Linked DNA regions of Homo sapiens: region 1 is linked to region 2. Evidence: fine-mapped expression QTL. A gene starts in region 2. The other region holds a variant in brackets. All regions are shown on one strand. Distances are from middle to middle. Region 1 overlaps PFAS (phosphoribosylformylglycinamidine synthase). Region 2 holds the start of BORCS6 (BLOC-1 related complex subunit 6).

What was found. PIP is the estimated chance that this variant, and not a neighbour inherited with it, causes the effect. A credible set is the group of variants that fine-mapping cannot tell apart.
Region 1: its variant is the best candidate, but not a certain one, in a credible set for the expression of BORCS6 in whole blood (INTERVAL, PIP 0.58).

What each region holds. Positions count from the first base shown.
Region 1 is chr17:8,253,125-8,257,506 of GRCh38, forward strand. PFAS (phosphoribosylformylglycinamidine synthase) reads left to right here. Exons shown (of 28, transcript NM_012393.3): 2 at 735-955; 3 at 1,042-1,177; 4 at 1,903-2,008; 5 at 2,378-2,567; 6 at 2,681-2,786; 7 at 3,143-3,283; 8 at 3,400-3,524; 9 at 3,711-3,839. The coding sequence starts at 814. Among named protein-coding and RNA genes, the nearest start is that of PFAS, 6.0 kb to the left of the region's middle. The variant A/G (reference allele first, on the strand shown) is at 1,831.
Region 2 is chr17:8,188,305-8,192,686 of GRCh38, forward strand. BORCS6 (BLOC-1 related complex subunit 6) reads right to left here and starts at 1,876. Exons shown (of 1, transcript NM_017622.3): 1 at 41-1,876. The coding sequence starts at 1,836. The coding sequence ends at 763. It overlaps LOC124903913 (a long non-coding RNA gene), which reads right to left. Exons shown (of 2, transcript XR_007065604.1): 2 at 2,971-4,196. RefSeq lists enhancers at 1,043-1,689, 1,668-1,947, 1,690-2,335, 4,153-4,252 and silencers at 1,128-1,177, 1,248-1,307, 1,508-1,557.

The DNA of each region.
Region 1 (4,382 bases), 65 kb after region 2:
AAATTTTTCCTGACACCTGAAGTGCAGGATTGGTGTCCACAGTCCCCTGACCTTCACCACACGGGACTGGAAATGTCTGGGTACTTGGCCTTTCTCCCCCAATAAAATATAAACCCTGTGAGAGCAGACAGAGTTTCTGTCTTGATTCACAGCGGTGTTTCTAAGACCTTGACTGGGGCCCAGCAAAGTGCATGTACTCCAGGAACACGTGTCAGGTGTGTGCCTGTACACCTCCCTACCACATTAATAAAGACCACATTTTGCAAGATTCCTTAAAATCTCCAAGGTTACATTTTTCAGGTTACCTTGTTTCTCTAAATGTCCATATTACTTTCCCCTACCCTATCCATAACGCCGCAATTTTCCTTGAAATCTGAAATCAGTTCAACAGATAGGCCATAGTTAATGTTATTTTTATTTTATTTATTTATTGAGACGGAGTTTTGCTCTTGTTGCCCAGGCTGGAGTGCAATGGCGCGATCTCGGCTCACTGCAACCTCTGCCTCCCGGGTTCAAGCAGTTCTCCTGCCTCAGCCTCCCTAGTAACTGTGATTACAGGCGCCCGCCACCACACCCAGCTAATTTTATATTTTTAGTAGAGACAGGGTTTCACTATGTTGGCCGGGCTGATCTCCAACTCCTGACCTCAGGCAATCCACCTGCCTCAGTCTCCCAAAGTGCTGGGGTTACAGATGTGAGCCACCACGCCCGGCTTAGTTAATGTTATTTTTTAGGAACCTAATTCATCTCTCCAGCAAAGGACACATCTCTCCAGCAAAGGACACCTCTCTCCAGCAAAGGACACCTGCAGAGATGTCCCCAGTCCTTCACTTCTATGTTCGTCCCTCTGGCCATGAGGGGGCAGCCCCTGGACACACTCGGAGGAAACTGCAAGGGAAACTGCCAGAGCTGCAGGGCGTCGAGACTGAACTGTGCTACAACGTGAACTGGACAGGTTGGGCCCAGGTATTAGATTCTTGGGGGACATGCCTCGGTGCTGGGGGCAGTGTCTCAAGGTGTCCTTGCCCTGTCTCCCTGCAGCTGAGGCCCTCCCCAGTGCTGAGGAGACAAAGAAGCTGATGTGGCTGTTTGGTTGCCCCTTACTGCTGGATGATGTTGCTCGGGAGTCCTGGCTCCTTCCTGGCTCCAATGACCTGCTGCTGGAGGTCGGGCCCAGGTAAGTATCTCATCCTGCCCACCCCTTTCTTCTGCTTTCCTTTGCTTCCTCTTGTGATCCTTGGGAGATTTGCTTTTCCTTTGCTCTTTGCTACTTCCTGCCTAGGAAACCACACATGTGCTTTCCCCATTTGGGTAGATCCCTCCAAAGACCTAGCCTGCTCCAAAACATGTTCTCAAAGCAAAATAAATTAGATTCCAAGTTAAAATCAAACAGTTTTGGCCAGGCGCGGTGGCTCACGCCTGTAATCCCAGCACTTTGGGAGGCCGAGGTGGGGCAGATCACGAGATCAGGAGATTGAGACCATCCTGGCTAACACGGTGAAGCCTCGTCTCTACTAAAAATACAAAAAATTAGCCGGGTGTGGTGGCGGGCGCCTGTAGTCCCAGCTACTAGGCAGGCTGAGGCAGGAGAATGGTGTGAACCCGGGAGGCAGAGGTTGCAGTGAACCGAGATCACGCCACTGCACTCTAGCCTGGGCAACAGAGCAAGACTCTGCCTCACAGAAAGAAAAAAAAATCAAATAGTTTTGATGCTAGAGGACAGTTTTGGTTTGGTTTGAGTGTACTTTAAAAGCAGGTTTCTTGTTGCCCAGCCTGAGGCTGAAAGCCAATGGTGAGGGGATAGCGGTGGGAGGTTGTCCAGACAGCAGT[A/G]GGCAGGATCCACCCTCCCAGCTGAGGCCTGCCGGGGGTTCTCCAGTCCTAACCATCAGGCCCATTGTTCAGGCTGAACTTCTCCACCCCAACATCCACCAACATCGTGTCAGTGTGCCGCGCCACTGGGCTGGGGCCTGTGGATCGTGTGGAGACCACCCGGCGCTACCGGCTCTCGGTGAGGTGATGGGGAATCAGGAGGAGGAGATGAGCCAGAGATACAAGATTAGATCCTAAGCTCTAGAGAGAAGCAGGGACAGGTGCTCCTGGCTTTAGGCCTGCTCTGTATGGTCGTACAAGTTGTTCACTGCCTGAAAGTACCTGGTTGAGGGGTAAATGGGGCAGAAATCCAGCCTATGCTTCCTTTAATTTGTGCATCCTGGCATGGATTCATACCTGGAAAGGGCGTCTTTTTGTAATCTGAGAAAAAGTGCCATATGGTGTGGCAGTGGGCTAGCCTTGCATGACTAAGAGGGTAGGAAGGTGGACCATTTCTCTCCATTCTTAAACTCTTCACCCCTTGCCCTCTGTGTGTCTGCACCCCTAGTTTGCCCACCCCCCGTCAGCTGAGGTGGAAGCCATTGCTCTGGCTACCCTGCACGACCGGATGACAGAGCAGCACTTCCCCCATCCCATCCAGAGTTTCTCCCCTGAGAGCATGCCGGAACCCCTCAATGGCCCTATCAATATACTGGGTGAGGGCCGGCTTGCGCTGGAGAAGGCCAACCAGGAGCTTGGTGAGTAGCTGGGGAGGGAGATGTAGGGTCCAGGATAGGCCAGTAGGGGTGCTGAGATCTGGAATGTGGCTGCCTGAGTTCCATAGTCACCTCTTCCTGGATTTGTCTCCTAGGTCTGGCTTTAGACTCTTGGGACCTAGACTTCTACACCAAGCGCTTCCAGGAGCTACAGCGGAACCCGAGCACTGTGGAGGCCTTTGACTTGGCGCAGTCCAATAGGTGAGGAGAAATGGGGTTGTTCCCATACCTGAGCCCATGGGTGTTGGGAGAGACCACAGGGGCTCACCTTCATGTTCCTCCCTTGGCTTAGGGGCCTCCCTGAGTCTCTGAGGGCCTGGGCTCCCGTCATCCATCAAGGAGTCTACATTCAAATCTTGGTTTTATCTTCACTTTGGCTCTGGATAGTCCAAAATGACAGAATACTTGAAGATTATGACTTTTTGGAATATATTTTGATCTGTCATCTAAGTATGAATTTGGCTGTAACTCTGCTGTTAAATGCTGGTGAGAAGACATGGCATTAAGAAATGACCCCGTTTCCACCTGCCTTCCCCTCCCTGCATCGCCCCCTGCAGCGAGCACAGCCGACACTGGTTCTTCAAGGGCCAGCTCCACGTGGATGGGCAGAAGCTGGTGCACTCACTGTTTGAGTCCATCATGAGCACCCAGGAATCCTCGAACCCCAACAACGTCCTCAAATTCTGTGATAACAGCAGGTGCTGTGCCCTAGACTGGGTTGGCGTCAGGACCCGGGGAGGGGAGGCCCCAGGCCCTGGTTGGGTTAGTGTAGGTCCCAGAAAGGAAGCAAGGTCCATGACGGGTATGTCCACAGTGCAATCCAGGGAAAGGAAGTCCGATTCCTACGGCCTGAGGACCCCACACGGCCAAGCCGCTTCCAGCAACAGCAAGGGCTGAGACATGTTGTCTTCACAGCAGAGACTCACAACTTTCCCACAGGTGAGCTGGGTTCCCTGGAGAAATAGGTGAGATCACAGAATAGGGTAGGGCAAAGGTCCCAGGCCCCTGGAGTGGGCCTGGGGAAAATAATCAGGGAAATTGGTTGTCCTTATTTTCAGTGGGGGTGGTCAGAGATGGGGGTTTGTCTCTGAGGCACCCAGACCTCTCCCCACTCTCTCTTTGCAGGAGTATGCCCCTTTAGTGGTGCAACCACTGGCACAGGGGGCCGGATTCGAGATGTCCAGTGCACAGGCCGCGGGGCCCACGTGGTGGCTGGCACTGCCGGCTATTGCTTTGGAAATCTGCATATTCCAGGTTCCATCTCCTTCCTCTCTATCCACCTTCCCTTCCAGATTCCTTGTCCTGGCAGGCAGCAAACTTCTATCTGTTAGGTCCATAGGGTTATCCTGTGTGCCTTTTCTCAGGAGGAAGGGCTCTAGGATAGCTGGCCTTTCACTAACTATGGTCATAAGTGTAGACCTGGGGAGATGAGGTGGCCAGACTGCTTTTGCAGGTCTACGATTTTCTTTAAAAACTAGCCTTCATTCAGCCAGAAAGCATGATATTGGGTTGGTCTTATGATCAGTACCTGCCCCTCAAATCTGGTTTCTTAGCCTGAGAAACTTGGCTGGGCGTGGTGGCTCACGCCTGTAATCCCAGCACTTTGGGAGGCTGAGGTGGGCGGATCACAAGGTCAGGAGATCAAAACCATCCTGGCTAACACGGTGAAACCCCGTCTCTACTAAAAATACAAAAAATTAGCTGGGCGTGGTGGCGGGCGCCTATAGTCCCAGCTACTCAGGAGGCTGAGGCGAGAGAATGGCGTGAACCCGGGAGGCGGAGCTTTCAGTGAGCCAA
Region 2 (4,382 bases):
TTATTAATCACTGCAACCCCACACAGACTCAGCCTCAGCCTTCGCAGCAGCAGCACTTTAATTCCACAAAAACTCAGAAAGCCAAAACTGATTAGAACACTCCACAACAGGTGAGCTTCAAAACCAGCAACATTCTACCTGAACCCTGAGAGCAGTGAGACGCCTCCCACCTCACCCCCTCCGCCGTGCAACCCATTCCTCCTAGCTGCACGCCGGTTCTGGCTGGGGAAGTGGTATGGTAGAGGGCCAGAGGGCAGAAGCAGAAGGCTCTCCATCAGCAGGGGTGCATCTTTGCCTGCGGGGTGTTTGGCCAAGGACGGCACAAGCTCCCACAGCCCCTGGCACCTGAGATGTGGCCACTGGAGTCAGGATAGCCACAGTGGGGGCTGGGGCTTCCTCTGTCCCTTTCTCCTGATTACATGTGGGAGTCACGTCCTCACCTTCAAGCAGACCTAAAGCCCCGTGTTCCCAGGGCTGGTGCTCTAGCTAGGGAGGAGAGTTGGGAAGAACAGGGTAGCTACAGATGGCCAACTGAATACAAGCAGAGCAACATCCCTTCCCACCAGGAGAGCCGTTAGAACTTCCCCACATACACCAGCCTAAGGCCCAGCGAGTGGGCACGGGCCAGCTGAACGCATCTGGAAGAGCCTCCAACACACAGGCCTCCCCTCAGTGGGCACTTCCCACCAGGACTCCCTGAAGAGTCCTTAGGGTCCTGCTGGGCCCTGCCCTGGCCAGGACCGGCCTCTCCTGTCCTCCTGGTCACTTGCACAGGGCCTCCAACACCTCCAGAGTACGTCGGATATCCCGGACTTGGCGCGCCAGCCCCTGAACCGGCTGCAGAGCCCGCTCCAGCTCCTCGCAGCGCGCCAGCAGGGTGTACATGCCCTTGATGCTCATGTCCACGGCTTCACCTAAGGAGTCCACAGCATCGCGGTAGGTCTGGATGCAACCCACGCTCAGCGCCGTCAGCTCCTGCACCGCGCCACCCAGACCGCGAAGCAGACGGTCCACCCGGCCTCCCAGCTCCCGACTCAACCGCTCCAGATCCCGCAGCACCTCGGGGTCGATTGGGGGAATGGCCGGTGTGGGTGTGGGTGCAGGCGCTGGGCAGGGCCGCGCAGGGGCAGAAGGCGGGGGTGGAGGCGCGCCGCTCAGACGGATCTTGAGTTGCAGGTTGTTGGCGACAAAGTGGGTAAGGTCGCCGTGGCGGCTCACTGTGCCTTCGAGCTCCAGGGGACTGGAGATGGTGGCGCGGCGTCCGCCGCCCGCGCCGGACTCGGCACTCCCTGAGGACCCGGCGCCACCGCACGCCTCGCTCAGCCCGTCCAGGCTGCGGCTGTCCTGAAGACGGCTGGAGAACGAGCGGCCGGCTCTGCTGCCCGCGGCCGCCTCCTCGTCGTTGTCTTCCTCCTCCTGCTGCTCAACATCCATCCCGCCGCCTGGTCCCCCTCGACGGCAGTCCCTCCCGGAGGAGGGCTTGCCCTCGGGCGGCGCCGGGTTCTTGTGCCGGGAGGACAGGGAAGGTTCGTGCTCTGCACCCGGCGCCCCCCTGCGGCTCCCGGCCCCAGACAGCGTCCCTTGAGGGCCGGGCTCGTTCTCCAGAGCCTCCCGTTCCGGCCGGTGGACGACGCCGCAGCTTGACGTCTTCGGGGACGTCCTGGGGTGGCGGTTCGCGCCCCCAACGTTCTCGGTCTCTTCCTCCCCGGACACCCGGAGGCCTGCGGGCGGCTCAGAGGACGTTCGGCCCGGCCCGCCGCCAAAGACTAGGGCCTGATGTTCCGCTACAGCCAGAAGGTCCGTCTCGGGCCCGGGCCGCCCCCGAGACGACTCCATACTGCAGGTGGGGGCCGCAACGGAGGAATTGGTTCGCCCCGGCTCCGGAGGCAGTGGCTGCGCCTTTAAGGGGCGTTGGTAGAGGCGAGCCGATTGGCAGCGGCTGACAATGGTAAGGACAGGAAAAGCATTTTGATTGGTCGCGGCGACCAGGAAGTCCCGGAAGAAGAGCTGTTACTGCACAGCGGAACACACGTGAACGCCGGCAGGGTGGAGAGAAGGAGGTGACAGCTGCTCCCGTCGCCCCGCCCTTTCTGAAAGCTGATGGGGCAGATCTTAAAGACCAAGGTCCTCAAATTCCTGAGTCCCGAGGGGTGGGGCTCAGATCCTTTCTGCCTGTAATTGTACCCCCCCCAACAGTGATTGCTTAGCAAAAATACCAAGTGGGGAGCCCACTTGGGGTTCCTAGAGAGGTTCTTAGGATGAAAATGGCATATCCTTCTTGGACCATCAGGGTTGAACCTAGTTGACTAAAAAGAAGGAAACCAGAAGTCCAGCATGAGCATGAATGGTTTGCTCTATCTTTCTTGGTTAAGAGACCTAACCACTGAACTGCTCAGAGCGACCCACTGTGGTCAAGGCAGCGGCCTCTGGGCTTTCCTATGCGTTTGTCACTCTTGTTCTGTGTCTCTTGCCCCTTTCACACTGAGGGGTCTCGCCCCTTGGAGGATGGCGTGTGATTTTGCCACGAGGTAAAATATTCAACAAATGAAATGATCACAAATTTTGATATGTGCTATACAGGAAATAAAGTGTTATGATTGAGAATATAACTGAGCAGGCACTAGTTTAGGTAAGGGGTCAGGAAAATACCTCTTTGGTGAGACTTTTAACTAAAAAGAACCAAAAAGACGCAGCCACCCCCCAGGCAGAGAGAAGAAAACTTGAGCTACCTCTCAGAGACAAAGAAGTCTTGACGTATTCAAGAAACTGAGGTGAGGGGGCAGGAGACATTGGGACTAAAACAAAATCAGCAAGATAAGGGGAAGGATTTCGAGCCAAGGAGCTGAACAGGCAGCAGGGGCCACGTCATGCAGGGGGCCTTGTAGTTCCTGTTAGGGAATGGAGATTTCCTCTAAATGCAATGGTGCAGCGACATTGGAAAGGTTGTACATTGCAACACATAGCCAAAGCTTGGAGACATCAGTATTTTTATTTATTTATTTATTTATTTATTTATTTATTTATTTATGTATTTAGAGACAGAGTCCCACTCCGTCACCCAGGCTGGAGTGCAGTGGCGCGATCTCGGCTCACTGCAACCTCCGCCTCCTGGGTTCACGCGATTCTCCTAACTCAGTCTCCCGGGTAGCTGGGATTACAAGCGCCCGCCACCACGCCCGGCTAATTTTGTATTTTTAGTAGAGATGGGGTTTCACCATGTTGGCCAGGCTGGTCTTGAACTACTGGCCTCAAGTGATCCACCCGCCTCGGCCTCCCAAAGTGCTAGCATGACAGGCGTGAGCCACCGTGCCCGGCCAGACATCAGTATTTAATAAAAACAGTTTGCTAACTCTCCTTAGCTGACAAAGGATGTGGTTGTTTTTTCCATTTGGATAGAGAGATGTCTTGAGGCAGTGTCATGCCAGCATTCAGAAGTGCAACTCCCCAGAACTTCCCAGCACTACTATCCCCAGGTGCCTGCCGGGGTCCTAGCCAGCCAACCCTAATGATAGTAGCTCAATCTTTCACCACGCCTGAGGAGTCCACAATTGTCAGCTGTCTGTATCTTATAGTCACCTGCAGCTTGACAAAACCTGTCATTCCTTTGCTCTAAAAAAAAAAACCTAAAAAGCTCATATATAATTGGGCTGGGTAGGTAGATATTCTTTAGAAGATGGGAGGACTTCCCTTGAGAATGGGAAGCTGAGCACAGGAAGAGAGTGATGTGATGGGATTCATGTTTAGGGATTACTGGCTGTTGTAGAAAATGTTTGCAAGGGAGACGGTAGACCAGTGAGGAGGCGGTTCCAAGTACCAGGTGATAGTAGCTCAGCCTAGCACGATGTGGATGGATGCATTCTAGATGTATCTTGAAGGTTTTAGCGGACAAATGGGCTACCCACCGTCTCTCTGTGTAGGGGAAGCTCCTCACTCCTCAACTCCCCATTCCCTGATGTGTTGGTGCAATGACAGCCAGGAACAGGCACGTGACCCAAAACTGGCCAATTAGAGTACTTCATCCTTCTGACTGCAGATTGGCTCAGGGAAGGGCACATGACCCAATGTATGACCAGTAAAAATCCTCCACAGTGTTGTTTGTTTCTAGCTTTGTGGAGAGTGTGAGACGCCTTTCTGTTCTCTTGAGAGCTCAAGCTGGGTATCAGCTTGTCCATCTTTCATGTCCAGGAGATCGCTGTCTGTAGAAGGAAAGAATGAGGCTGATAAGGAAGAGAACCAGAGACAAAAGATGAAGAGGCATGAGTTCTGAGAGCGTTTGAATTCCTGTGCCAGCCTGAAGATAGCCCCACCTTTATCCTTCCTGTGATTTGGTTCCTTGCCCCACCCCTATCGCACCACCTCCCCCGCAAAACCTTGTTTCTTCC